Homo sapiens: one gene and its partners. The protein of the gene in region 1 interacts with the protein of each later gene in a biochemical or structural test. Each region holds a gene or a part of one and is shown in the gene's direction. Other genes may lie near its edges. The genes, in order: HDAC9, MEF2B, MAML1 and SIN3B.

Region 1 (7,662 bases):
TTGATTTTAGAAGAAAGCCTATTATAATCCAGAAAAATACAACTTGAACTCCATAATCTCAAGTGTTGAAATCCCAAAAGATGAAAATATAATTCTGAAAGAAATAATAAAACATTCTTTATATTTATTTACATTTTAAAAGGGGGTTTATTTGAGAAAAATTAAAACAAAACAATACACTGTACACGATAAAATAAATAATGGCACATATTTTTACAAGCAAAAACACTCAGGTATACTAGCAACAGTCACACCAGTATAACAGTTATGATGCAGACAAACCGTATTTATAAAGAAATAGGTCAAAAATGGAAATGTATAAATGCATATCACTGTGGTTGATAATTGTGTGCACCCAGCTTTATATAACTGTAGTCATCTTAAATTTCCGGATGAAGAAGCTAAGCTTTTTGGCAAGATGGATCAAAAAATTCAGTGGGTCAACAACACGCATATAGTTACCCAAAGAACCGAGATCCTGATAAATTTTCTTTCACAAGCGCAGATGTACAAAATCTTTCTTTCATTTATTGAAGAAATTTCGACATGTTTGGGTTCAGAAGTACTGCTTATATGCAAAGTCAACGTTGTGATAATGCAGTTCTCGTGGAATCAAATTTCTGATGTCCAAGGCATTCGAAGAGAAGCCTGCCCTAGTTCTCAGACAGAAACCAGTTCACCTCCTGTGTCTGTTCTATATGGGTCCCCGGCAGATCGGATGGTGCCTGCTAACATTGAGGGGAGATCTTCTTCACCTAATCCACTCAAACTCACACTAATGTCATCTGGAAGCACCCTCACAGACACACCCAAAAAATGCTTTAATAGGTTTCTAAGTATTTAATCCAGTGACATCTCAAATTGAATCCACAGGTCCACCCCTTGTCAACTTGGCTCCCGTAAGTCTCTCCTTAACCATACTTAATTTCCAAGTAAAGACTGTAACAGCCGCCTAACATGATGCAACTAACATGATGCAATAATCCTGCATACGACCAAAAACTAATCGCTTCACCAGAATGCAGCTTTCAAGATTTCATATTTGAGATTTTAATATTTCGAGATTGTTATTTTCAGGATTGTAGACGTGAGAGATTTTAGACCTAAGGGATTTAGACCTTAGGGATTTTGTATCTTTTCAGATTTCAACATTCAGGATTATGGCATGTGGGATTGTGTCTTTCAGGATTGTGATCTAAATCCATTTTAGAAAAGGTCATTGTGAGCTAGAGGTCTGAGGATATTTCTGGAAATATTTTGGTGCCATACAGGTTTTTTAATACTTTTTTTTTGCTTATATGTCTGCATAGAAAGAAATTGGATTATGGTAACTTTGAAATAACATTTTACATTAGGATTTAATTCCCACTTTCATTTACTATTAAATTGAGAACCTGAGATTTTTTTGGCCCTTGTTACTTTTTTTACCTTTTTCTTTGACCTATGTGTATATAACATATAATATTTGGATTAGTTTGCAATAAATGCTTACTTAATTGAATTTGAATTTGTTACATTGAAACTTTTTAAACTACCCATCTACCTAGCCTGACATTTGTATTAGCTTGTTATAGTTCTTGTAATAGAACATATATCTTTTTCCCCCACATTAGTAAACTGTAGTTTTATAAATACCCCAAAAGAAACTGAGTCACATTTCTTTACTAACATTACTGAGATGATGTGGGAAGAATTAACTCAACATTCTTAATAATGGAAATATGGTAATCAATATAGTTGATGGTTGTTTTGATGATACTTATTTTTCTTCTGAGAAACAAGTGGGGTTTTTTGTAAGTATCCAATGTCTTTTCACTCTAAAATATTTTTTCATTATCAAGAGTTAAATAAAAGAGAAGATGGCTGATGGAAAAACATACTGCAAGAATGCAGGGATGAAACGTAAATAAACCTCATGTTAAATAATGGTCAAAATGAAGAAGACACATTATTTACAGTATTTTATGTGGAATGCCCTTTCCTGGATCCTTTAAGAACTAGGATAATTACTAACTCAGTCTTCTGGAGTTTTATTCTATTTTTTATTTTTTATTATAAAAGCTGAGAGATCTTTTTTTATCAATTGTTGTTTGAAGGTGTAATTTAAACTTAAAAAGACAAAAGATGCATAGGCATATTGTATCAATATGGTGATTTTGTTATCTCTTTTGTATATTCATCATAAATTTTTGTATTCTGTTAAAAATCACTCTGAAACAGACAGTGGGTCCATTTTTCATCAGTAGATCATATTAAATTTTATTTGGAATATCTCAGATAATGATTTGTATCATTTTGGTAAGGGACAAGATGGTGAGACTGGATAATATAAATGCTAGACCTATATGGTTAGTTATTAATTACCTGTATTTCCTTAAGCTACTGTCTTTAAAGCCTGACTCCAATAGTGAGTCCTTTTGTAATCAAGCCTCCTTCGTTTCCTCATGAGTGAATTTCAATGATTGTTTTTCTTAATATAAGAAGTTCTTGTTCTGATCTCACCACAAAAAAAATGGTAACTAGCTGAGATGATAGATTTGTAGCTTGATTATGGTAATTATTTCACAAGGTATAGGTGTATCAAATCATCAAATTGTACACCTGAAATATAAAGAATCTTGATTTGTCAAATATACCGCAATTTAAAAAATGTTCTTTACATAAATGTTTTGTAGAATAAAAAAAAAAAAAGTTCTTCAAAAGAAATCTCAAATCTCCAAATGGAAACAGGTAAAAGTGGAGCTCCCCTGGTTCCACGGAGAACCTTTTTTGAGGAAACTTAGGCAACTCGCAGGTACCTTATGTCATGAGACAGAGTTTGAAAACTACAATTGACTATCTCTAAATTTCCTCCCAGGTCTAAAATGTGATGATAGTTACTACTTCAGTACATCATCCTTAAGGAAAATTATTAGGTCCACACTGTTTCTATCCTTTGAATTTTACACATAAATTTTGTAATCAAAAGTTTATTTGTAATATCAGATGGAATCAGATAATTGCTTTTTGTTTTTTCCACTGACAGGAACATAAGATTTTGTTGTGTAGCTTAAGTCAAACGCAGTTTGGAATATATATTTTTTAAAAATTGTAACTTACATATCCAAATACAATTTTTCAAGAAGTAGAGTATTCAGTAGAAATTAATCTGTGAAAGAAGAGGAATTCAGCAGTGGCCTATTTGATGAATGATTTAACGTGCTTATTTCTTCCCTTTCATCAAAACTCTGTGTCCCCTTGTTTGCCCCCTCTGACTTCATACTCTGGAGTTGACCAAGATCCCTCTTCCATCGGATTGTTCTGGGAATTTTGAAATAATCTGCTTTTTCCTCTCTTTCCCCTGTTGCTTCTGATGCCTTAGAATTACATTTTCCTCGCTGATTTAGTTTAGAAAAGAGAAAAGAGCTTCCATGACTAGTAGATTATCACTTTTGGGTTTGCTCTTGGAAGTGACAAGATGCTAGGATCCCTCTTTGGAATGTAAAATTTATCTCTTATATAGAAAGGATATAAATGTAGCACCAGAGACTATAAAACTCTGATACTATCTACTGTACTGTATAGCTGAACGCCACAATGTGTCTGGTAATCTATTGACTATCATAAATGCTATTTCTACAGAAAAGTTAGGAGGTCCATATTTCGGGCAACCAATGTATAGCTGAATGCAGAACAGTCATAGTTGGGTACTAACCATATATATGATTTATCCATCAACAGGTGCATATGCTCAGAAATTCTGTATCCATAAGAAATCAGACTACTTTCTTTTCCTTTTGCAAGTAAATTGAATTTAGCCTGAGAGGCTGAGGGGAAATTTTCACATATAAGCCACGGTTTTGTGTTTTGTGTTTTGTTTTGTTTATAGATATAGTACTAACTGGATGGATGCGATAAAATTCATAGGTGGTACTAAGATACAATAGGATTTGTGAAATGGACAATTGTCTTGCATAAATAGCAAGTAAAAAATCAAGCCTGTCCTTCATAAAAATTTTATTCTGGGGTGTGCTTGTTTTCCAAAAGTACCTCTGCTAAATCTCCTGTTAGTCCTGAAACTAGAAGGCAGAAAAGCTTCTAGTGCTACAGCCAACTGCAGTGTAGCCTGAGAAACAGGCAACAAAAATAGAACACCAGGATTGCTGTGCGTGGGTGAGGCAGAAACCACATTATGAGCAAAAGCTTCCAGTATTATTTTAGAACCAATACAGAGCTCTGTACTTCTCTCCTCTCTCTTCCAAAAACACATACTACAAAAATAAAATGAAATGAAATGTATGTGCATTTGCCCTCTTAGAATTATGATTCTTAATTTTTTTTCTTGCCTTCCTTTCTTTGGAAGCGAATCGCCAGTATGGAAACACAGTGTGTAAAGCAAGCTTCGAGAGAGGAAAGAGTTAATTGGTTTTAAGGCCCTGCGATAGAGAATTATGGTTGGAAAGATAGAGGCTGGACAGCTGGGTTTGCTGGGGTATTTTTAAATGCATTAATGCAGGCTCCAATCACTCGGCCATGCTTGACCTATTTTTGGCTCAGGCCGACCATTGTTCTATTTCTGTGCCTGTGGGCCATGCTGTTGTTGATTCATATGCAAATGGATTATCACTCGCTTTAGCCAACTTGAGCTGAGAGAGACTGAGAAAGGGGGAAGAGAGGCACAGACACAGATAGGAGAAGGGCACCGGCTGGAGCCACTTGCAGGACTGAGGGTTTTTGCAACAAAACCCTAGCAGCCTGAAGAACTCTAAGCCAGGTTTAATTGGTTTCTTTTTCTCGTGGGTAGACTTAATAATTTTCTACGTATTCTGACAAAGAAATAACCCCGAAGCACGTTCCTATTTCCCACCTGCTTGTAGTTTCCGGGATAACCTAAACTCCAGAGAGCTATAGCATCCACTCTGTCCTTTCTGCTTTGCACACAGGTTGGTAACATGGGAAAAGTGTCCAGGTCTTTTTAAAAGTGGATGCCCATTTGAGCAGAAAGGAAATCATTGTCGAAGTTGATCCTCTGCTGCTTCTCCTCAGGGAGGAGGGAGAACCAGCGAGGGTAGCTCCTGGGGCCGGTGCACTGAGCAGTGATGAATGTTTCATGTAGCTGAAGTAAGAGTGACTGGAATATGCTGCAGACAATTTACGAGAGTGACTCCTGTTTTTCCTCAGATGGGGTGGCTGGACGAGAGCAGCTCTTGGCTCAGCAAAGAATGCACAGTATGATCAGCTCAGGTAAGATCCTCTTTCATAACTGAGACGTTTTAGGTTTGAAAGGGGGCTGGCTTGGGAAATGCAGCTAAGAAAAGCACCTCTCTTAAGGAAATTGCTGCTTTTTCGTGTTGATGTTGCTATTTTCTTGGTGCGTCTGTAGGGTTTAACTTAGATCCCTTCCATTACTGTTTCTGTGCATATTCAGTCTGCTTAGGGACAGCAGCTTCTGAATGAAATTGCAAACTATTGCTTCTGATGAAAGATGAGACTGAGATAAGTAAAATGTAGTTGGGGGTGTTTTGCCTTTACTATGCAACTAGAAAAAGGAGCTGTGTACTGATTGTAAGCCTATTCTAATAGGACTTTAAAAATCAGGTAAGTTCATATTGGGGCTTCAGTTTAAACTGCAGCCCCGCTAGCCTGACGATTTTATATTTACTCTGTGCCTACAGAAGCACATCTATTTATAGACCTACCTTCTAAAATGTGTTTGCCACAGAGTTATAAAGGTAGTTTTCTTTTTTCCATTATGTGGCTTTTTCTCATCAGCCCCAAATGAAACTGTTTAGGATGAAATAAAATTGTTATTAGCAGATGCTTATTTTAATTTTCTTCAAAAACATGTGGGAAGTCTAGCATTGTCAGGCAGATGTGATGGCATAACACACATGTAAATGTGTTAAAAGCAGGTGCAGCGTTTTAAAGGATAATAGGAACAGATTCTAATTTCTAGTTTCTCAAGGAGATGAGCTGGTGGGAGATTGAGCTTGTCAGCCTTGTCAATTTATACTTACTAAATGAACATACTCTCCAGGCAGTATCACTTAACGTGTAATTATTGCCTTTCATATTTATTTCCTATGGCTATTTCCTAAAGCTTTGGGAACTCTTTGTTTCTGTCCTCTTCTGAATGTTTCAACCTAAAATTGGCTTAAAGTTCTCACTTAGATCCCACTTCCCATGTGGGCTTAATCGTAATTATAGATCACCGCCTAGATTTCCATGATAAGAATGCCACATAAAGCAGTGTTTACTTTGTAGAGCTAGGTGTGAAAGAAATATTCCACAGGTTGGCATGATGTCTGTTTTGGTGTTAATACACCTTCCCATATGGGGATCTATGTTTAAAGCTAGTTTTCTTTAAACCTTGGTTAGTTATGTTAATTTTAAGATCCTTCTGTTGACCCAATCTTTTCATGGAATCAGAATAAAATATCAATTTTGCATAATTTGGTATTTATACACTTAAGTGACAGGAATTATGTTAATGAATAGTGCCTGCTTAACAAAAGCAAACCTACCAGAATTTCAGTACAGTTTATTCTTATAGCTGCAAAGCTGACAAGGGCTCCGGGAGGGTTTAACAGGTATGTCTCTAATGGGACTGGTCATTTAACTTAGCATTTTATTTTTTAAAATATGGATGAACCCTTTGAAAATAACTATTTTAGAAATCTTTTCAGCACTATGCTTTATCCTTTTAGTCCTCACTTCTGTGTTACAAGTTTGATATTTTTTTTCATATGGTAGAAACATACATGCCTTCCAAGTAGCAAGTGTCTGCTGAAGCTAAGGCTGGCTACAGGTGTTTGCAAGCTTTGCTTTTTTCTCCACATCTTTGATAATCACATACAGCTTTACACCCATTTCAGTAGAGATTGTCATTTTCCTAGCATTTAATGGTTTGTGTACAAAGCAACAAGATTTTCAGACAGGGAAGTGCTTCAGGCTGTCCATGCTTTGGCCAGTTCTACAAGAAGCAACATTTAAGCAGCAGCTAGCTATTAAATGAAAAGTGATGTAGGTTAACATCAACTCCCAAAACCTGTCTGGTATAAATACATAATCACTAAGTTCTATTTATTTTTAAAATGTGAAGCATAAAAACAATTACACCCTTCCTGCCATGCCATATATTTCATATATGTTCTTAAATTTAATTCACCTAGTCTTTATTGTATACTTCCTGTGAGGCACTGGCTCTCAAAGTTGGACTCACCAGAAGCACTTTACAAAATATGATACCTAGATTCCACTCCCAGAATGCCTGGTTTAATTGGTATGGGGAACAGCCTGGGGATTGAGGTTTTTAAAATCTCCCCACCTTAACCTTCAGCAAACTGAGATTCACTGCTGTAGGGCTAGGGAACAGATGGTGATGCTGGTGAACCACTATCAGTAGGGTTTGTCCTTTGAGCTAACTGCTAAATTAGGGGTATGTTTGTCTTAATTTAGCTACAAATCTTGTTCAGCTCCCTTTTGGACCAGTGGTCTGGACGTGATTCATAGGCTTAGAAGCAGAGTCTTTGGATTTGAAAGAGAGAAAGGATGCCTGGCAGCAGTGCAAAGGAGTGGAGAGAGCACTGTTCTAGGAGTCAGACACTCTGTATTCTAGCATGAGCTCCACTGCTAGCCGATTGTGTACTGATTTTTTTACTCATCTTCAAACTGAAGAATAAT
Region 2 (7,593 bases), on another chromosome or scaffold:
AGCTGGGTGTGGTGCATGCCTGTAATCCCCAGCTACTCTGGAGGCTGAGGCAGGAGAATCGCTTGAGCCCGGGAGGTGGAGGTTGCAGTGAGCCGAGATCACGCCACTGCACTCCAGCGTGGGCGACAGAGGTAGACTCCATTTCAAAAAACACCCAGCTGGGCATGGTGGGTCACGCCTGTAATCCCAGCACTTTGGGAGCCCGAGGCGGGTGGATTACGAGGTCAGGAGATTGAGACCGTCGTGGCCAACATGGTGAAACCCCATCTCTACTAAAAATACAAAAATTAGCTGGCTGTGGTGAGCACCTGTAATCCTAGCTACTCGGGAGGCTGAGGCAGCAGAATGACTTGAACCCGGGAGGTGGAGATTGCAGTGAGCCGAGATTGCGCCACTGCACTCCAGCCTGGCGACAGAGCCAGACTCCGTCTCAAAAAAAAAAAAAAAAAAAATTTAACTCCCGGCAGAACTCCAGAGATAGGCAGCTAGAAGAGAGACAGTGAGCTCTCCGTGCCATGGGGCATCCAAACAGAAGCATAGTGCTCACGAGGCTGGAGATCACCCAGAAAGGATCCCAACCCTGATCTGCAGATGGGGTAAAAGGAGACCCATACAGGGCAGCGACCTGCCCCCTGCTCCGTCCACAGTGGTCAGGACAAGAATCAGACTTCCGCTGGGTTTTTGTCCTTAGCCATTGGTGTGAGTCCTGGTTTTTATTTCAGACCTACTCCTCTGGGTTCCCGGAGAGTCCTGCACACTCAGGCCCCTGGAAAGCCTTTTTTTTTTTTTTTCTTTTCCCTACAGTATCCCTGAACAAGGCTTCTGGGTGCCCCAGGCTTATCCCCCACTCCCTTTCACTGCTTAGACCTTCTTTGAGATTCTCCAGTTCTTCAAGAAACCCATGGAGGCTGTGCGCAATGGCTCATATCCATAATCCTAGCTCTTTTGGAGGCCAAGGCAGGAGGATCGCTTAAGCCCAGGAGTTCGAGACCAGCCTGGGCAACAAGCGAGACACCCAGTGCACCTCAAAAAAAAATTTAAAAATTAGCCAGGTGTGGTAGTGCATTCCTATAGTCCCAGCTACTTGGTAGATGGAAGCGAGAGGATCACTTGAGCCCAGGAGTTCAAGGCTGCAGTGAGCCATGATTGTACCACTGCACTCCAGCCTGGGCAACAGAGCAACTCTGTCTCTAAAAAATGAAAAGAAAGAAACCCGTGGAGACACCCCTTTGGTGCCACCATGCACTGGGCCCGGGCCCAAGGAACCCCCAGGCTGGGGGACACAGAACCAGCCACATACTCTACCCCGCCCCCTGGATCAGTGCTAAGCTGGAAGGAAGGGTGGGGAGGTGGAAGGATCCTAAGTGGTAAGAGGATAGGAAGGCTTTTGGAGGAGGGAACATTGGAGGTGGGCCTTAAGGGCTCCTATTATCCCCACTTCTTCTTTTTTTTTTTTTTTTTTTCTTTTTTGAGACAGAGTCTTGCTCTTGTCACCCAGGCTGGAGTACAGTGGCGTGATCTTGGCTCACTGCAACCTCCACCTCCCGGGTTCAAGCAATTCTCCTGCCTCAGCCTCCTGAGTAGCTGGGATTACAGGTGTGTGCCACCATGCCTGGCTTTTTTTTTTTTCTTTTTTTTTTCGAGACAGAGTCTCGCTCTGTCGCCCAGGTTGGAGTGCAGTGGCACGATCTTGGCTCACTGCAAGCTCCGCCTCCCAGGTTCACGCCATTCTCCTGCCTCAGCCTCCCGAGTAGCTGGGACTACAGGCGCCTGCCACCACGCCTGGCTAATTTTTTGTATTTTCAGTAGAGACGGGGTTTCACCGTGTTAGTGAGGATGGTCTCGATCTCCTGACCTCGGGATCCACCCACCTCGGCCTCCCAAAGTGCTGGGATTACAGGCGTGAGCCACCGCGCCCAGCCTATCCACACTTCTCATATGAGCAAAGAGGCCCCAAGGGGTGCAGTGACCATCCTGAGGTCACACAGTGAGTGGGCGGCACAGCTGGGATGGGGACTCAGGGTTCTTTAACCTCAGGGCCCTCCCTACCTACTGGGTCACACATCCTTATCATGGAAGGTCCTTCAAAGCCTTCTCCTGGGAGAGGGGAGAGAATCTGGAGGAGGGAGACAGCGGGGGCAGCTTCTCCACCTCCCCCAGCCTCCCACCCTAGCCTTCTCCTCCATCCCCCACCCACCACCTCCCCCATCTCCCAGACCTGCTTCCCAGGTCACTCTTCTCCCTCACCACCCACTCTGGACCCTTCTATCCCTTCCTCCTCACAACCTTCCCTTCTACCTTCCAACCTCTTACTCTAGCAACTAAGGGTGTCCCTTCATCTGAGAAGAATGAGGTTAAGACTCTTGGTGGCCCTGCTAGGGGACACAATTAGTGGTTGGGGAAGGTATAGGATAGGAACAGAGGCAAAAGGACACGGGACAGACCATGAATAACAAGATGGTGCCCACCAGAAGGAGGGGGCTGGGGAGTTGGGGTGCATAAGGGCCAGCCCCAGCCAGCTTCGCTCTGCTGGGCTAGCCCTTCCCCCAGAGCTGGCCCAGCTGCCGGCCTCACGTAACCAGAGCCTGCCTGTTGCATCAGAGGTGGGCGGGTGGCCTCCGGTAAACAGAGCAGCCCTCCGGGGGCCCAGGGCTCCCCAGCCACCTCCACACTCCCCAAGCCTTGTTCTGCACCATGGAGTGGAGGCAGAAGCCCCCAGCCTGGCCCAGGCCCTGGCATGTCCTTGGGGCACCCCAGTGTATGGCACTGGGCACTGGATGGGGACAGGAGGGACCCACTGATGACACAGTATGAACTCTATAGTTTTCATGTCCAAAGAGAAAGTTGTGCTCAGACTAGAGGCCCACACTGCCCATGTCACAGACGGGTAAACTGAGGTGTGGGGAGAGACACAAGCCTCCCAGGCCCCCTGTTCCCTGTCTCAGTGTCCCCCACACTCCAGCATCTGCCACATGCCTCCCCCTGAGTTTGGGGGACCAGCCCCTCTCTTCTCTGGAGGAGATGGACACCAGGCAGCTTTGCAGCCCCATTGCTCTCCACCTGTATCTGCCCCTCCTCTTCACCCCCTGCCCGCTATACTGGCTTCACCTTCCTCATCTTCCCCGGCCAGAGAATGTTCTATGCTCTTCCTCTGCACTTTTGCAAGTGCTTTTCCCTCTTGAAAAAGCCCTTCTCGGGTCTTGTGTAGTGGCTCACACCTGTAATCTCAGCACCTTGGGAGGCCGAGGAGGAAGGATCTCTTAAGCCCAGGAGTTTGGGACCAGCCTGGGCAACATAGTGAGACATCCTCTCTTAAAAAAAACAAAATTAGCTGGACCTGGTGGTGGCCTGCCTGTAGTCCCAGCTGCTGGGGAGGCTAAGTTGGGAGGATTGCTTGAGCCTAGGAGGTCGAGGCTGCAGTGAGCTATGATCATGCCACTGCACTCCAGCCTGGGCAACACAGTGAGATCCTGCCTTGAAGAAAAAAACAAGAAAAACCTTTCTCCTAGTGGCAAACTCCTACACATACTTGAAAGCCCAGCACAAATGCCCTCTCTTCTGAGAAACCCTCCCTGACTCCTCTGGCACAGCCCTTGCCCCAATTCTGGCCTGTCCCAGCCTCCCATCCCTCCTCTGGCCCAAGCCTGACCCCACAGGGTTAGGGGAGTGCATGGATCCCCTGCCTGCCCCAGACGGGCCGGGGGCTTCTCCAGAAGTGCCCATCCCAGAGCCATCTTTATCCTGTAATTCTTTTCACATTGATACATTCACCAACCCCTGCTCTGATCTTCCTGTGGGTCTGGCCTGTGCTGGGATCCCAGGGGAAGGGGTGGATTTAGAGTTCTGGGCTGGGGTCCAATCCTGGAAGGCCCCTCACAGCTGACCTTTGAAGTTTAGAAAACAGCCTTTAGCGGGGAGAGGTAAGGAGAGGGAAGTGGTTGGTGGAAGCAGTGTGGTTGTCTTGGACTGTGGAGGGGCAGGCGGTGCGGGCTTGAGGGACCAGTAGCTGCGGAGGGTCTGTCACTCCCTGTGGGAGCACATATCTGGCCCCAGGAGGCACAGTTGAGTGAGGCCACACAGGCCACCCGAGAGCCCCGTCTTGCAGTCTTTCCATTCTAGCGAGCGCGAGGGTCAGCGTTGCCTGCGAGAAGGGCTTGGTTCCTCGGGGCGACGGGGTCCGGGATCGGAGTCTATTTCACTCAGGATGGAATCAATCCAGGCAAGTTGGGCCGAGTTAGGAAAAGGTTTAGAATTAGGGTTAGGGTCACAGTAGGGTCAGGGGTCGGCAGTAAGGTCAAGGGCGCCCAGTGAGGGCGGGGAAAGCCTGGCCAGTCTGATCCAGCCCCCTCCCTCCGTTCTGCTTCTTCCTTATCCGCGCCCCCACCCATGGCGCCCCAGCATCCTTTCGCGTCTGAGTCCCAGGCCCATGAACTCCCGGGTCGGGGCCACGCCCAAGTGCACGCCCATCGCCGCCTCCAGGGTGACGCCCTGTATGCAAATAAGCCCGTCCCGCCCAATCAGCTCCCGGGGGCAGGACCGCCCGCTCCCAAGGCACCTGCGGCCGCGGGCCCCTGATCTTCGTGCAGCCGCCGCGGGTCCGTGCGCCCAGCGTCCCAGGGCCCAGGCCGAGCAGGTGCGTGTCATATCGGGTTGAGACTCCTGTGGTGTCCTCTGAACGGCTTCTGCGGGCTGGGTGGGTTTTGGAGGTCCGGGTGTACTGCTGGGCGTCCCAGGGTGGGGTGTGTGTCTAAAGGGGTGTGTGTCGTGGGGTGGTGAGTCCCCGAGGTTGTGGCAGGAGGGGGTTGTGTCTCCAAGGGGTGTGTGTCTGAAGGGTGTGGGTCTGGAAGTTGTGTGTCCAAGGGCTCTGCGTCTGAGATTTGGTGTGAGTTGGGGAGTTGGAGAGTTAGCTGTGTGTCCAAAATCATGGTGCTGTGAGGCCCTATTATGTGTCTGTGAGCTCTGTGATGTGGCATGTGATGTCCCTCTCTCCTGGTGTGCACTCCTTTAGCATTAGCGCATCCCCTGTGCACAACCCTATGCCTTCTTGCTGTGGGTGTACACTCGTTTGTCACAGCAGGATGGTAGGCACAAAACCTTGGAACGGGGGAGCAACAGCTGCCGGGGCCAACTCTCCTCCCTTTGCCTCAATGGGTACAGGAACAAGAGTCACATCCCCGTGTGGTTGTTAGCACATGACAAGGTGGTGGCAGCATTACTTTCACGGTCACAGTCCTCCCTCCCTATCTCTTTTGGGGTCCAGGGCTGCAGATATGGGTGACCTGTGTCCTTGGCCACCCTAACCCCTAGTTGCAGACCCAATTAGTCAGAAATAGCTGGCCGGGCACTGTGGCTCATGCCTGTAATCCCAGCACTTTGGAGGCTGAGGCAGGAGGATCACTTGAGCCCAGTAGTTTGAGACCAGCCTGGGCAACATAGTGAGACCCCCATTTTCTTTTTCTTTTCTTTTCTTTCTTTGTTTTTTTTTTGAGACAGGGTCTCATCCTGTCGCCCAGGCTGGAGTACAGTGGTGATCTTTGTTCACTGCAACCTCCAGCTCCCAGGCTCAAACAATTCTCCTCCCTCAGCCTTCTAAGTAGCTGGGATTACAGGCGCGTGCCACTACCGCCTGGCTAGTTTTTGTATTTTTAGTAGAGATGGGCTTTCACCATGTTGGCCAGGCTGGTCTTGAACTCCAGACCTCAAATGATTCACCTGCCTCAACCTCCCAAAGTGCTGGGATTACAGGCGTGAGCCCCTGCACCTGGCTTTAAAAAAAAATTTTTTTTGAGACAGAGTCTCACTCTGTCACCCAGGCTGGAGCGCAGTGGCTCAATCTTGGCTCACTGCAACCTCTGCCTCCCAGGTTCAAGTGATTGATTTTCTGCCTCAGCCTCCCGAGTATCTGGGACTACAAGCGTGTGCCACCATGACCAGCTAATTTTTGCATTTTTTGTAGAGACGTTGTTTCACCATGTTTGCCAGGCTGGTCTCATGTGATCTGCCTGCCTCAGCCTCCCAAAGTGCTAGGATTACAAGAGTAAGCCACCGCATCTGGCCAAAAAAAATTGTTTTTTTAATTAGGCAGGTGTGGTGGCTTATGTGTATAGTCCCAGCTACTCGGGAGGCTGAGGCAGGAGGATCACTTGATCCGAGGAGTTCGAGTCTGCAGTGAGCTATGACTGAGCTACTGCACTGCAGCCTGGGTGACAGAGCAAGATCCTGTCTCTAAAAGAAAAACAAAAAGAAAGAAAAGAAACAAAAAAATGGCCAGGCGCGGTGGCTCACACCTGTAATCCAAGCACTTTGGGAGGCTGAGGCGGGCGGATCACCTGAGGTCAGGAGTTCGAGACCAGCCTGACCAACATGGAGAAACCCCATCTCTACTAAAAATACAAAATTAGCCGGCCATGATGGTACATGCTTGTAATCCCAGCGACTCAGGAGGCTGAGGCAGGAGAATCGCTTGAACCCAGGAGGCGGAGGTTGTGGTGAGCGAAGATCGTGTCATTGCACTCCAGCCTGGGCAACAAGAGTGAAACTCCATCTCAAAAAAAAAAAAAAAAAAAAAAGAAGAAAGAAACAAAACAATAATCAAGGCCTCAGGCTAGCCTGGCCAAGAATCATCCCTGGGGAAGGGCAGGGCCCCTGGACCTTGGGCATTCGGGACAAGAACTCTCAGACTCTTGGAGTGAAGGAAACTGGATACAAAAAAGTATTTCGACTTCGGAGAACCAGTGTGTGAGGACTGATTTCCAGAGATGAAAAGGGCTTTCTAAAAAGGCAGGCTTGTTCCCTCATGTCCCCTTCCTGTTGTTCAGTAAAGGGGGAAGCTTGGCCTCCAGCAAACAGAATTTCAGGACAGTTAGGATCTTGGGATGTCATCTTAGAGAGCAGGAAGCTGGTTTGCAGGAGGGAAGGCTGAGGCCAGGTAGTAACACTAGGCCCCTCAAAAAAGGATGGAGCTCAAGGCCATGCCTCAGTCCCCCAAGAGAACAGAGGCTGGGGTCACGAGGCCCAGCTTCCTCTCCCTCCTCTCTGTGTGACCCCCCAACAGGTGGCTGCCCCTCTCTGAACTTTGTGGCAGCTCCTGTGAGCGGAGCAAGCTGAACCCACTCTTGGCTTTCCCATCCCAACGAATGATTTATTTGGTTAAACTATGACCCAACCAGGTGGACATCTGGAAAATGCAAATTAAGAAGAGAAGGGGAATTTAAAACATTTGCTCACCCCAACTTGGGTGCAGTGAGTGTAGACATGTTGGGTGTTTGGCCTTCTGGAAGAGGTTTCTTTCTTTCTTTCTTTCTTTCTTTGTTTTTGAGACAGCATCTTGCTCTGTTGCCCAGGCTAGAGTAAAGTGGTGTGATCTCAGCTCACTGCAACCTCTGCCTCCTGGGCTCAAGTGATCCTCCTGCCTCAGCCTCCTGAGGAGCTAGGAATACGCGCTCACACCAGCACACCCAGCTAATTTTTTTTTTTTTTTTTTTTTTGAGACAGAGTCTCACTCTGTTGCCCAGGCTGGAGTGCAGTGGCACAATCTCGGCTCACTGCAACCTCCACCTCCCAGGTTCAAGCGATTCTTCTGCCTTAGCCTCC
Region 3 (6,984 bases), on another chromosome or scaffold:
CGGTGTATGAGGGTGCTGATTTCTCTACATCCTCACCAACCACTTGTTATCATCTGACTTTGATTCTGGCCATCCTAGTGGGATCTCATTGTAGCTGTGATTTGCATTTTCCTAACCAGCTCTCCATTTTTTAAAAACAGGTATACCTACCTTTTAAAAAAGTCATTGCTCCCTAGATCTGTTTCATACTATTTAAAAACCCCAAAATGAAATCAGCACTATTTCCACAGGAGCCCATTTGTGAGTAACAAACTTGGATAAGTTACTTTTCTCTGACCTCCCTCACTCCCTTTGTTTTGGATTTTGTTATATGTTGGTTTTGTTTTGTTGTTCTTGGCATTTTCTAGGAGAAGCAACAGTTTCAGCGCCATCTGACCCGCCCACCACCCCAGTACCAAGACCCGACACAAGGCAGCTTCCCACAGCAGGTTGGACAGTTCACAGGTAGGGGGTGTCTGTGTGACGAGCAGGGACAGGGGAGGCCGCTGCCTGGTGCTGGTTGAATCCCTGCTGTCTGCCCAGCTCTATGCCTTGACTTCATCAGGCTGCATGCATTGTCATCATATACACCTCAGTTTGCCTAAGGGGCCTGGTTTTCTAGTTACTCCACGGCATCAGGAGAAGAGGGCACAGAGGCAAACCACTAGAACTACCTTTGCTGGGTCCCTGGCTGTACAGTTTTCTGAAGCAAAATCATTTCTAGTTGGAGGACATCTTATCAGCAGGAAATAGCTTCTGTAATTCTCAAGAAAGTTCTTTGCTTCTGCTTTTATGTGTCTTCAAAAAATGACTCCTATCTTCCAGATAAGGACTTAATGCACTTGCGTGGCCTTTGGCTTCTTTCTCTCCTCCTGTCTGCTCACTTGAATATCACAGATGGCAGCATCACTAGTGGACAGTTGGCCAGAAAAGGGCAGGAAGCACACTTGAGTCTAGCTGTCGCCTCTGAGATGTGCCAGGGAACTTCATAGGCCATCCCTCCAGAAATGCACAAAGATTTCAGGGAATGGATACAGGAAGCTCTGGTCTGCCCGCCTTCCTAGCTCCTCTCAGAATGTCTTAGAAACCTCTGTTTTTCCTTATTTGGGACCTTGCTATAAAGGGTCCCAGAGAGACTGACCACAGCTGTGTGTCCTGGAGGAGACCAGGTACGGTTTTATGTATGTGCTACCTGGGGTCAACGTGGGGTTGAAATCTGCAGGCATTTCAGAAGCATGGGTCTGACCCATGTTTTCTGCCTTCAGACCCATCTGACATTTTGTGGATTATTGATGGGAATGAAATAGCCGGTTTCAGCTCTCCTCTTTTCCTCAACCCAATTTCATTGTTGTTGTTTTGAAACAGAGTCTTGGTCTGTCGCCCAGGCTGCAGTGCAGTGGCACGATCTTGGCTCACTACAACCTCCACCTCCTAGGTTCAAGCGATTCTCCTGCCTCAGCCTCCCAAGCAGCTGGGATTACAGGCGCCTGCCACCACGCCCGGCTCATTTTTGTATTTTTAGTAGAGATGGGCTTTCACCATGTTAGCCAGGCTGATCTCACATACCTGACCTCGTGATCTGCCCGCCTTGGCCTCCCAAAGTGCTAGGATTACAGGTGTGAGCTACCGTGCCCGGCCCCAATTTTTATTATATGGTTGCTAGTAGAGAGGAAGAAGAACAAAGCACTGAGTTACGGCCAATCCCTGAACAATGACTCTCCTACCCACAAAACCTAATTCAGTTAATGGTGTTGTCATATGTCCATTGCTTAAGCCAGGAGGCCTAGACAGCAGTTCCCTGAGCATAGGGGTGCTTTCTCTTCCACCCTCTGCTGTCTCTCCAGCACAGCACCTGCCACAGAGTGGGTACTCAGTGAAGATCTGGTAATTTCCTGCGACTCCTCCCTCCTTTGGCCACCTTGTCATTTCATAGTATAAATGGTGTGCCATAAGATGGTATATTGTCTGGTGAGATGTTGTCACACAGTTCTGCACCTCCACCCCCCATTCCCACATGGTCTGCCCTCCCTCATCTCCGTGACTGAACAGCCTCTCCCCAGCATGGTCTCAGCCACACTCTCAGTCCAGCCACTCTTGGGCTTTACAACCCTGTTCTTTGTTTGTTTGTTTGAGACAGAGTCTTGCTCTTTCGCCTAGGCTGGAGTGCAGTGGCATGATCTCGGCTCACTGCAGCCTCCGCCTCCCGGATTCAAGCAATTCTCCTGCCTCAGCCTCCCGAGTAGCTGGGGGCGCGCGCCGCCACGCCTGGCTAATTTTTGTATTTTTAGTAGAGACAGGGTTTCACTATGTTGGCCAGGATGGTCTTGATCTCCTGACCTCGTGATTCGCCCGCCTCGGTCTCCCAAAGTGCTGGGATTACAGGCGTGAACCACCGCGCCCGGCCACAACCCCGTTCTTCACACGCCATCCACAGCTCTTCCCTATCTGGCCGGAACTAGCTCTTCCATTTTATCTCTAACCAGCTGGCCACTGTCTGCATATCCCGGCCACGGCCAGTCTCTGAAAGTTCCCCACACAGATGCCTTTTTCTGACTCTGCCTTTGCACACACTTGCCTGGAATGCTCTTTTTCCCCAAACTGTTAAATTGCTAAACTTCTGTGCTTTTAAACCTAGTGGATTCATCACTGTCTCTCTCAAGCCTTGCCCAAGGCTTCCCAGATGCCAGGGCTTCCAGCCTGCACCCTGCAGCCTGCTGGCCAGGCGCGCCCCATCGCGCCCCATTGCGCCCCATCGTGCCATGTGCTAACTTTGCCTCCCAGAGGCGGATCTTGCGTTGGGTCCACCTCAGAGTCCCCGGTGCCCACCACAGGGTCCCCACAGAGCAGAAATTTGGTGGGTGCTTGAAAGTTAGATGAAGTAGGTCACTGGTTTTCTCTCCCCTGGGGCTTTGCCCTTCCTCTGTGCCTTTCTGAACCCCATCATTGTTTCAGAGACCAGGCCTCCATTCCACCTGTGGAAGGCTTTCTGCCCCATGGCCCCCGGGGCCCTCTTCCCAGTGTGCCGTGAACGTGAGACTTCTGGTGCTGCGGCTCGAGTCTCAGAGGGACCCAGTGGTGGTCGACTCCTGACTGCCAGACTCTTCTCTGTCTTGTAGGGTCCTCTGCTGCCGTGCCCGGCATGAACACCTTGGGTCCATCCAACTCCAGCTGTCCTCGAGTGTTCCCTCAGGCTGGGAATCTGATGCCAATGGGCCCTGGACATGCTTCAGTTTCCTCTCTCCCCACAAACTCAGGCCAACAGGACCGGGGTGTGGCTCAGTTCCCTGGCTCCCAAAACATGCCTCAGAGCAGCCTCTATGGCATGGCTTCTGGCATAACCCAGATAGTTGCCCAGCCCCCGCCACAGGCCACCAATGGACATGCCCACATTCCACGGCAGACCAACGTGGGCCAGAACACCTCCGTCTCAGCTGCCTATGGGCAGAACTCTCTGGGAAGCTCTGGCCTCTCCCAGCAGCACAATAAGGGGACCCTGAACCCTGGTTTAACAAAGCCACCGGTCCCAAGGGTGTCACCAGCCATGGGAGGCCAGAATTCCTCCTGGCAGCATCAGGGAATGCCGAACCTCAGTGGCCAGACCCCAGGGAACAGCAACGTGAGTCCCTTCACTGCAGCCTCCAGTTTCCACATGCAGCAGCAGGCCCACCTGAAAATGTCTAGCCCGCAATTCTCCCAGGCAGTGCCCAACAGGCCCATGGCTCCCATGAGCTCAGCAGCTGCCGTGGGGTCCTTGCTACCCCCAGTGAGTGCACAGCAGAGGACCAGCGCCCCTGCCCCAGCACCACCCCCAACAGCCCCTCAGCAGGGCTTGCCTGGCCTGAGCCCAGCAGGGCCTGAGCTGGGGGCCTTCAGCCAGAGCCCTGCCTCACAGATGGGCGGTCGGGCGGGGCTGCACTGCACCCAGGCCTACCCTGTGCGGACCGCGGGCCAGGAGCTGCCTTTTGCCTATAGCGGGCAGCCAGGTGGCAGTGGGCTCTCTAGTGTGGCTGGACACACCGATCTGATCGACTCCCTGCTGAAGAACAGGACTTCAGAGGAGTGGATGAGTGATTTGGACGACCTGTTAGGGTCTCAGTAATGGAAGGATTTGTAGTGTTTTTAGTGTTCATTCATCCTATATTTTTATTCTCAGATTCAAAGAAAGAGCAACTACTTTGGACCAAAAGCCCATGGCCTGGGGAGCTGGGCAGGTAGAGCCCAAGCTCCAGGTGAGGCCTGGCCCTGGGCAGGGTCTGTGGCTGCGCCCCTCAGGCCAGCAGTTGAGGTCCATCGGGCTGGCCCCAGCCCATCTGCTGGCATCAGTACCTGGTGTTGGGACAGCAGGATAGGGTTCTAAAGGTGGTTTTCTATCCAAACGACCAAAAAACCAACAGTAACACCAGTGAAACCCCACACTGTCGGGCTTATAAAAATCTGTGCCATCATGGTGATTTTATCCAAGACTGCTCCACTTACCCCAGTGCTGGGGACAAGTTTCTGTTGAAACTTTAGATAGCAGAATTATTTGCAATTTGTAGCATAGAAAAGATTTTTAAATTTTTTTACAAAAGGTTTTTAAACAGATTAGGGTAGGTGATGGTTTAAATCAATTAAGTGGCATTGGAAACCTAGGGTTTCCTTTTGATTAAGAGCCTTTTTTGTTTCTGCTCTTTGTCAGCTTTCAGGGGAGAAGGAGGCCACTGGAAAATTATTTCCCTAAGTGCAGGCTGTTGACTGCGTATGCCAAAAAGGGACAGGAGGCATGGGATAGCAGGTCTGGTGACACAGCTAGGGTCTTCCTAGCAGCTCCTCCTCCTCCCTCCCAAGGCCCCCAGGAATCCCTTCCTCCCATGTCCTGGCAGCAGGACCCCAGGCTACATATGGAAGGTAGAGATGTGGGGGTCCTGTATCCTGGAGTATTATGTCTCCCCACCTTCTGCAGTTTTCTCTGAACATGTATGTTGCCCATGGTGGGAGCGTGGTCACTGTGCAGTTGTGCACAGATGTCTTTCCTTTACCGTTGGCCTTTCTGTCTGCCTCTCCTTCCTCTCTGCAGCCCAAATGGAAAACAATTATTTACTCCATTGGAGGGAAAGGAAGAGTCTTAGAATTCCTAAGGGAACCTTAGCATAAAGGTTTTGGGGAAGGAGGCCGTAGGCCGGCCCGGAGGAAGCAATTCCACTTGGTTTGACAACTTCTGCCACTCCCATGTCAGATGACTTGCACTTCTTAAAGAGATTGCTTTATAACACTAAGACATCCTTTCTAAAGATTCAAGTGGACTTGACTAAGCTGAGGGTCCACGAAATAGAATATGACATGTGAGCTGTTTTTGGAAAACGAAGATGGAGAGAGCACTTCCCCGTAACGAAAGCAAAGTGGTAAGCACAGGGTGAGACCCTTTTACACAGAATGGTGGAGAGAAAAGAGAATGCTGAAAAGTGGCTCAGATGCAGAGTGTTCTGTGGAGAAACTGCAGCCCCACTTCTGTTTCCCTGGAGTCTCCCAATGGATCATTCAGGAGTGTCCTATGTGAGAATTGAGCCAAGGAAAATACTCATGCAACCAGCCTGAGTCGCGGTGAGGGGACGAGAGGTTGTACACACATTGGTAGTTATTTTGCACCAGCAGTGCCTTTCTCACTGGGGGTACTTGGACCCTCAGATCTTCTTTTCTAATAGCCATTTGCCACCCCAAGTGGTATGTCGGCCATTTCTCCTTAAAACACCTTCCCTACCTTTCCCATGTACTCAGTTTAGCTCTCAAAGAAGGGGTGAATCATAAAGCCAGTGAAAATTTCACCCTCTGAGGGAGTTCCCCAATCTGAAGGGGAAGAGGGTGACCTCAGCGGCTTTTCTCCCAAAAATCGGCTGAAGGCTGGTTGTGGATCCTTGTTCCTCTCCTGACCCCATCTGGCTGCTGCCCCGTCTCCCACCCCTGTCCCCGGGGCTCGCTGGCCCTGCACTCCGCCTTAGTCCTGGGGCCGGCGACACAGTGGGGGCTCCTCACTTGCTGCAGTGTCATAGCAATAAAATGTGATTCTTGGGGTCCCCCCAGGGAGCTGCCCATGGCTTTATTTATGAACCTGGTTTTCGGGAGTCAGGGGAGGAGATGACTTTGCTTCTGTGCACAGCCCCGTCTTCCAGGAGCCACAACTCAGAAGAAAAGGGTGCTCAGACTTTTGTTATACACATTTGCTTTGTGTAAATAAATGTTTACAATTTTATATGAAAGATGGAATAAGCGCTAGAGCTTCCAACTGTATATTTTTTACTTTTATAGATTTTAAAACTATGATCCTTTATATGTGTGTTTTGGGGGAGCTATGATAAGTTTTATGGCAAACGGTTGGTATTGTTAACTTTTTATTGTCATCAAAAGTTCATAAAAGTCCTATTAATCCCCATATTCTTCTACTGCCCTTAACTCTGGTATACACCAAAAAGAAATCTTTACTTTCCTTGTTTTATCATTATAAAAATAAAGTATTTTGCTAGTATGGAAACAACCTTTGTATTTGACGTCACCTGGGGTCTGCTGGCAGAAGTTTGGGGATTGGTTTTCTTTTGTAATTTAGCTGCTTGCTTTTCTTGGTTTTTTAATTTTTTCTTTTTAAAGAAATGCTTGTCGAGTCATAGATTTAGCTGCTTTCTTATTGCACATTGTTGGGTGGGAGCTGGTTTGGTTGAAGCCTCAGAGGAGCTTCTGTTATCTGCTGATAGATACTAAATTAGAGCTAGCATCACCCTGAGAAAGCAGGCTGGCCCCAGGACTCACGGGCGTCCATGCAGCTGATGGAGGGGAGCTGGACCGGACGACTGTGCTCTCTTAGCTCTAGCATCACCCTGAGAAAGCAGCCTGTCTCCGGGACTCACGGGCATCCATGCGGCTGATGGAGGGAGCTGGGCCGGACGACTGTGCTTCTCGTGCTTCATGTAGAACCCTTAGGTTTGCCCCTGAAGTCTGTCTGCTCCATGTACTATTTAGTTGCTTTTCAGCATAGAG
Region 4 (6,474 bases), on another chromosome or scaffold:
GTCTGGTCTGGTCTGGCTTTGGTCTGATTTGGTTTGGTTTTGGTTTGGTCTGATTTGGTCTGGTCTGGTTTTGGTCTGGTCTCATCTGGTCTGGTGTGGTTTGGTTTTGATTTGGTCTGATTTGGTCTGCTCTGATCTGGTCTGGTCTGGTCTGGTTTGGTTTGGTTTTGATTTGGTCTGATTTGGTCTGGTCTGGTTTGGTGTGGTTTTGGTTTGGTCTGGTCTGGTCTGGTTTTGGTCTGGTCTGGTCTGATCTGATCTGGCCTGGTTTGGTTTGGTTTTGGTTTGGTCTGATCTGGTCTGTTTGGTCTGGTTTGGTTTGGTTTTAGTCTGGTCTGGTCTGGTTTTGGTATGGTCTAATCTGGTCTAGTTTGGTTGGTTTTGGTTTGGTCTGGTTTGGTGTGGTTTGGTCTGATCTGATCTGGTCTGGTTTTGGTCTGGTCTGATTTGATTTGGTCTGGTTTGGTTTGGTTTTAGTCTGGTCTAGTCTGGTCTGGTCTGGTTTTGGTCTGGTCTAATCTGGTCTAGTTTGGTTGGTTTTGGTTTGGTCTGATCTGATCTGGTCTGGTTTTGGTCTGGTCTGATTTGATTTGGTCTGGTTTGGTTTGGTTTGGTTAGGTTTTGGTTTGGTCTGGTTTGGTCTGGTCTGGTCTGGTTTTGGTCTGGTTTGGTTTGGTTTTGGTTTGGTCTGGTCTGGTTTAGTTTGGTCTGATCTGGTCTGGTCTGGTTTGGTTTTGGTTTGGTCTGGTCTGGTTTTGGTCTGGTTTGGGTCTGGTCTGGTCTGGTCTGTTTGGTCTGGTCTGGTCTGGTCTGGTCTGTCTGGTCTGGTTTGGTCTGGTCTGGTCTGGTCTGTTTGGTCTGGTCTGGTCTGGTTTTGGTCTGGTTTGGGTCTGGTCTGGTCTGGTTTTGGTCTGGTTTGGGTCTGGTCTGGTTTGGGTCTGGTCTGGTTTGGTCTGGTCTGGTCTGTTTGGTCTGGTCTGGTTTGGTCTGGTCTGGTCTGTTTGGTCTGGTCTGGTTTGGTCTGGTCTGGTCTGTTTGGTCTGGTCTGGTTTTGGTCTGGTTTGGGTCTGGTCTGGTCTGGTTTTGGTCTGGTTTGGGTCTGGTCTGGTTTGGTCTGGTCTGGTCTGTTTGGTCTGGTCTGGTCTGTTTGGTCTGGTCTGTTTGGTCTGGTCTGGTCTGGTCTGGTCTGGTTTGGTTTTGGTTTGGTCTGGTCTGGTTTTGGTCTGGTTTGGGTCTGGTCTGGTCTGGTCTGTTTGGTCTGGTCTGGTCTGGTCTGTTTGGTCTGGTCTGGTCTGGTCTGGTCTGGTCGGTTCGGTCTGGTCTGGTCTGGTTTGGTCTGGTCTGGTCGGTTTGGTCTGGTCTGGTCTGTTTGGTCTGGTCTGTTTGGTCTGGTCTGGTCTGGTCTGGTCTGGTCTGTTTGGTCTGGTCTGGTCTGTTTGGTTTGGTCTGGTCTGGTCTGGTCTGTTTGGTCTGGTCTGGTCTGGTCTGGTCTGGTCTGTTTGGTCTGGTCTGCCCACAGCCTGTCAGGATTCTGGTCTCTTCATCCCTGTGTCATGCACTCTCCATCCTGATGTGTTTCTGGCCTTTGTCGACTTCCTCTGTGGGTGAGGTGGGGACTCCCGCAGGAGGCGGGGTGGCCGCACCACCTGCTTTCCTCCCGCCAGCTGCACCACCTCGTGAGCGATGACGTCTGCCTGAAGGTGGTGGAGCTCTACCTGAACGAGAAGAAGCGGGGTGCCGCTGGTGGGAACCTGTCCTCCCGCTGCGTCCGCGCTGCTAGGGAGACCAGCTACCAGTGGAAGGCTGAGCGCTGCATGGCCGACGAGAACTGCTTCAAGGTGAGAGGAGGCCTGGGGCTGGGAACACGCCGGGAGGCCCGGCCGCTCACTCCGCTCTGGACTCAGTCCTGGGTGGACCCTGGTTCAGCGGCTGGGACACCGGCCCTGCTGCAGAGCCCATGAGGTACCTTTGACCTGCAGGAAGCATCAGGGCTTTGGGAGGGTGGCAAAGGCGGGAGGCGGGTGGCCTTGCGAGCCTGCGCTGTGCCGGCTGGGCTGTGCCGGCAGTGGAGGCTGTCAGCGTTCCTGCTCCGCAGGTGATGTTCCTGCAGCGCAAAGGGCAGGTGATCATGACCATCGAGCTCCTGGACACCGAGGAGGCCCAGACGGAGGACCCTGTGGAGGTCCAGGTGAGGCCCTGGCCCCAGTCTGTGCCACGCATACCAGGGAGCGCCTGAGGGCAGCAGCATGGGGCTCCCACCAGCCAAGCGCAGGCCGCGCAGCATCCAGAGACCCTCCCTCTGCAGGCCACAGGCTCTCCTTGAGGCCTGGTGGGTGGGGTTGCCTCCCTCCCTGCTCCCCCACCAGGCTCTCTTCTGTGCCCCCTCTCCAAAGAGCAGACCACTCCTCCTGAGCAAGCGGTTGTGTCCCAGGGCAGGAGGGGAACCAAGCCACCTCTCCCTGGCCCCCGACTCCCACTCAGGGCATCCCGTGGCTGTGACCTCTGCACCTCTTGTGTCAGGGCTGCATCCTGTTCCTAATCCCCAGCAGAGGAGCCACCTGGGCCCAGCTCCCAGTCACAATTTTTGCGGGGACAGATGTTTCCTGCTCACCTCCCGCATCCTGGTGACAGTGAGGCATTGACCCGTGTGTGTCCCCAGGGTGGTCATTGGGGCCTGCAGCTCCCGGCACCTGCCAACAGGTCCAGTGTGTGTGCACATTACTCAGCTAGGCCAACCCCATTCATTTCCTGGGGCTACCACCACAATGACCACAAACCACGTGGCTTCAAACAACAGAAGTCTATTCCCTCAACGTCCTGGAGGTCAGCAGTCCACAACCACAGTGTGGGCCGGGCGGTGCTCCTGCCAAAGGCTCTGGGGCGGATCCTTCCTGCTCTTCCAGCTTCCGGGGGCTTCTGGCGCTCCTCAGCTGTGGCCTGGTTGTGTGAGTCCCGCTGTCACTGGGTCCTCTGTCAAGAGCTATAGTCTGTTGGGGTCTCCGTCAGGGATCAGAGTCCTCTGCAGCGGCTCTCCTCATGCTCTGGCAGTGGGGGGCACAGAACCCCTGTGAGCTCCTGAACTCAGAGTCCAGAGTAAGAGTGGCCATAGCCCTGCTGTAGGGGCATCACGGGCTGTGTCTCTCCCTGTCCCCAGCACCTGGCTCGGTACGTGGAGCAGTATGTGGGGACCGAGGGCGCGTCCAGCTCGCCCACTGAGGGCTTCCTCCTGAAACCTGTGTTCCTGCAGAGGTAAGAGGCCCTGAGATGCATGCTCTGTTCCTTCCTTCCTGGGCCCAGGGAGTGTCCCCTTTGTCCTGACGGGGGCTGGACCATGGCACACTGTCTGGGAGCACTTAGTAGGTGCCTGCTGTGTGCTGAGGCAGGCCCTGCCCTTTTGAGGCTTGTGGTTTGCAGTGGAGGGATTAGTAACCCCAGGACGGTGAGGTGTAGGAGGGGCAAGGCCAACCCCACGATGCGTCAGTGGGTGAAGAGTGAATGCCCGGACTGGAGGGAGACGCTGCCAGAGCTGGTGGGGCCAGGCCAGAGGCGGGTGGCTGTGGCAGGACCCTGGACCACCTCAGGTCGGGCTAGGATGGCACCTATGGGACCAGTGGGGGCTGCTGGTGGGTGTTCAGATCTGGGGGCATTTCTTGTTGCTTCCATTTGCTTTCTGTGGACCCCTGGGAGGTAGCACATCTTCTGATGGTCCCAGGCCTGGGGGTTTCCCAGCCTGCAAATCCTCCTCCCACAATGCCGAGAGCCAGAGTCCATTCCACCTCCTTTCGCCCCCAGGAACCTCAAGAAGTTCCGCCGCCGGTGGCAGAGCGAGCAGGCGCGGGCCCTGCGCGGTGAGGCCAGGAGCTCCTGGAAGCGGCTGGTGGGCGTGGAGAGCGCCTGCGACGTGGACTGCCGCTTCAAGCTCAGCACTCACAAGATGGTGTTCATCGTGAACTCCGAGGACTACATGTACCGTCGCGGGACCCTCTGCCGGGCCAAGCAGGTGCCAGGGGAGGCCTGGGCTGCCCCGACATGCCCCTCCTCACCCCAAGTCCTGGGGCCCTGGGGGTCCAGCCCTCAGCTGCCCTGACACCCGGCCTCTTCAACAGGTGCAGCCCCTGGTCCTGCTCCGCCACCACCAGCACTTTGAGGAGTGGCACAGCCGCTGGCTGGAGGACAATGTGACGGTGGAGGCGGCTAGCCTGGTGCAGGACTGGCTGATGGGTGAGGAGGACGAGGACATGGTACCCTGCAAGACGCTGTGTGAGACAGTGCACGTGCACGGCCTGCCCGTGACCCGCTACCGCGTGCAGTACAGCCGCCGCCCGGCCTCGCCCTGACCCGCCCTCATGGGCACCGGGCAGGCGCCTCACAGAGCACAGACGTGCCCTCGGCCTTGGTCGTGTCGGGGCCGTTTTCTTGAACGACGTGAGAGGCATCTCCCAGCCCCTCTGCTGCCGGACAGCGCACTCCAGGGCAGGACGCCGCCCCCGTGGCTCCCGGTCTCCTGTGGGCCTGCTGTGTGCCAAACCTGAGCTACCTGCACCCGAGCCCTGGGGCTCAGCCCCACCACAGGGGCGGGTGGACGTGCTGGCCGAGGAACAAGCAATCATGTTTGCGTCCCCGTCCGTCACATGTGCCAAATCCCTGGCAGGCAGATGGCTCCTGCCCCATATTCTTGCCGTGTCTTGGAAAAGTCACAGGTGACAGCCCTCCTGAGGCCCACACTTTGGAGGGGGTCCATGTCCAAGAGACCCTGACAAGGAAGGAGTTGAGCCCTGGGTAGGCTTGCTTGAAAAGTGAGTCCTTCCAGAATATTCTCAGAGCTGCCAGAAACATCATCTGAGGGTTTGGGCATCAGCTCTGCCTGGCTGGTGTTCAGGCCCTCAGTCACTTTGGAAGTGAGAAGAACCCTTCAGCCAAACCTTTGGGATCCCATTTTGAAGTCCAGAGCTGGAGCAGGCGGGCAGTGCCCTGGGAGACCCCGCTCTGGATAAGACACCCAACCCCAACTCCAGCAGCTGGACTCTGGGCCCACAAGGGGAGGGACCCCAGCCAGTATTCCCTCAGAGCCGGCACGACCCTGCTGTGGGGCGGCGGGCCCAGTCGTGTTCCTGCAGTGGGCACCCTAGGCGTATGTGTATACACGCACAGATATTTATTCCTTTCGCTTTTAGTGGTTGTTATTTCTGTAGCAGCCAAGTCCTGCGGCTCCCTGGGGCTGAGATCTCCCTTTGTGGAACTCCGAGAGCCGCCCTGACAGTCCCAGCCGCCACCCAAGGAGCCCCATCCGCCCACCCACCCTGGGACCCACGCGGCCACTCCAGGGATCATTGTTGTCCTTTTGTGAGGGGCTGAGGCGACTGTCCCATGGAGGCATCCAAGGCTTTCTGTGCCAAGAATCCCAAGTGACTGGGGCTGGGGACCACTTCTCCAGGCCTCTCTCCCCGACCATGAGAGCCCCTGGCCCTGGCCCCTGCACACCAGTAGGCCCAGAATAACCGCCACCCTTGCCATCCTGCAACAGCTGGACTCAAGTTTCCAGGAAGTGGAGATGTGTTTCTAGAAGTTTCCTGTGGAACCTGGAGGCTCCTGATGCCTTTGACTCCAGGCTGGGCGATTCCGATGCTGACCCGTCCTCCTGGGCTCCCCACCCCCGCTCCCCAAGTGTCACACAGGCACTTTGTACACATCCTGGTTTTCTAAGAAGGGAACTTGCCATCAAGATTCCTGTACCAGGCCCACGGCCGTCTCGGGCAGAGCCACCTGGGCCCCGGGTGCAGCCGGAGACCCCGCCGAGCCCCTCCTCCCAGTATTCCCATCCCCGCATGCTTCTAGGGAGCGCCTCTTTTCCGTTCTTGAGGAATTTCTGTTCTGGGGCTTGTCCTTCCTTTGCAGCTGTTTTGAATGTAGTTTTCCTTTTCTATTTATTTGCACATTAAAGTTAATAATTGAATATTGACATCAAGCCGTGAGGGTGTGTTGGTCTTCCTGTGAGAGCCTTGCTGACTTCCTGCCACCAGGTCAGTGGGCTGGACCCATGAGAGCAAGGGGTGGCTGGGTGTGCCTACCTGGGACCAGGGGAGTCGAAGCCCCTCCTTGAACCAAGATCATCTCACACCCTGCACCTGCCCCGCCACGACATGGGAGTGTCTTCTAGAATATTCTTTCCCCATTCCATTTGCACATTTAGTGGGAATTAGAAGCGTCTCCTTCGCCCGAGTGTCTCTCATGCAGAACCCAATTTAAAGATCATGGTGTTTGCTCTAAGGTGTTTGTTCTAAGCTTCCCATGCCCAACCTATCCGTCCAGGCCCATGCCTGCCCACCCACCCCACACGACCACCCTCTGTACTCCTTGGGGCCCCACCCACTTCCTGGCTTTCACCATCATTTTCTCCTCATCTCCTGCCCCCTGTCTGCATCCCAAGCTCCACACCTGCTTCCGGGTAGCAGAAGCCCCAGCTCTGCTGTGTCC

What was found.
Region 2: the proteins of HDAC9 (region 1) and MEF2B are reported together in a solved structure, tested with the Homo sapiens proteins (one study listed by BioGRID).
Region 3: the proteins of HDAC9 (region 1) and MAML1 form a complex in vitro, tested with the Homo sapiens proteins (one study listed by BioGRID).
Region 4: the proteins of HDAC9 (region 1) and SIN3B form a complex in vitro, tested with the Homo sapiens proteins (one study listed by BioGRID).

The regions. Positions count from the first base shown.
Region 1 is NC_000007.14:18,491,102-18,498,763, forward strand, and holds the start of HDAC9 (histone deacetylase 9), read left to right. Parts: upstream 1-4,647; 5' UTR 4,648-4,922; intron 4,923-5,160; coding exon of another isoform or gene 5,161-5,201; coding exon 5,202-5,223; intron 5,224-7,662. UniProt on the Homo sapiens protein: Responsible for the deacetylation of lysine residues on the N-terminal part of the core histones (H2A, H2B, H3 and H4).
Region 2 is NC_000019.10:19,167,245-19,174,837, reverse strand, and holds the start of MEF2B (myocyte-specific enhancer factor 2B), read left to right. Parts: upstream 1-4,574; 5' UTR 4,575-4,633; intron 4,634-7,593. UniProt on the Homo sapiens protein: Transcriptional activator which binds specifically to the MEF2 element, 5'-YTA[AT](4)TAR-3', found in numerous muscle-specific genes. Activates transcription via this element. May be involved in muscle-specific and/or growth factor-related transcription.
Region 3 is NC_000005.10:179,770,800-179,777,783, forward strand, and holds the end of MAML1 (mastermind-like protein 1), read left to right. Parts: intron 1-347; coding exon 348-444; intron 445-3,095; coding exon 3,096-4,078; 3' UTR 4,079-6,484; downstream 6,485-6,984. UniProt on the Homo sapiens protein: Acts as a transcriptional coactivator for NOTCH proteins. Has been shown to amplify NOTCH-induced transcription of HES1. Enhances phosphorylation and proteolytic turnover of the NOTCH intracellular domain in the nucleus through interaction with CDK8.
Region 4 is NC_000019.10:16,874,391-16,880,864, forward strand, and holds the end of SIN3B (paired amphipathic helix protein Sin3b), read left to right. Parts: intron 1-1,664; coding exon 1,665-1,838; intron 1,839-2,095; coding exon 2,096-2,188; intron 2,189-3,154; coding exon 3,155-3,249; intron 3,250-3,792; coding exon 3,793-4,000; intron 4,001-4,106; coding exon 4,107-4,337; 3' UTR 4,338-5,959; downstream 5,960-6,474.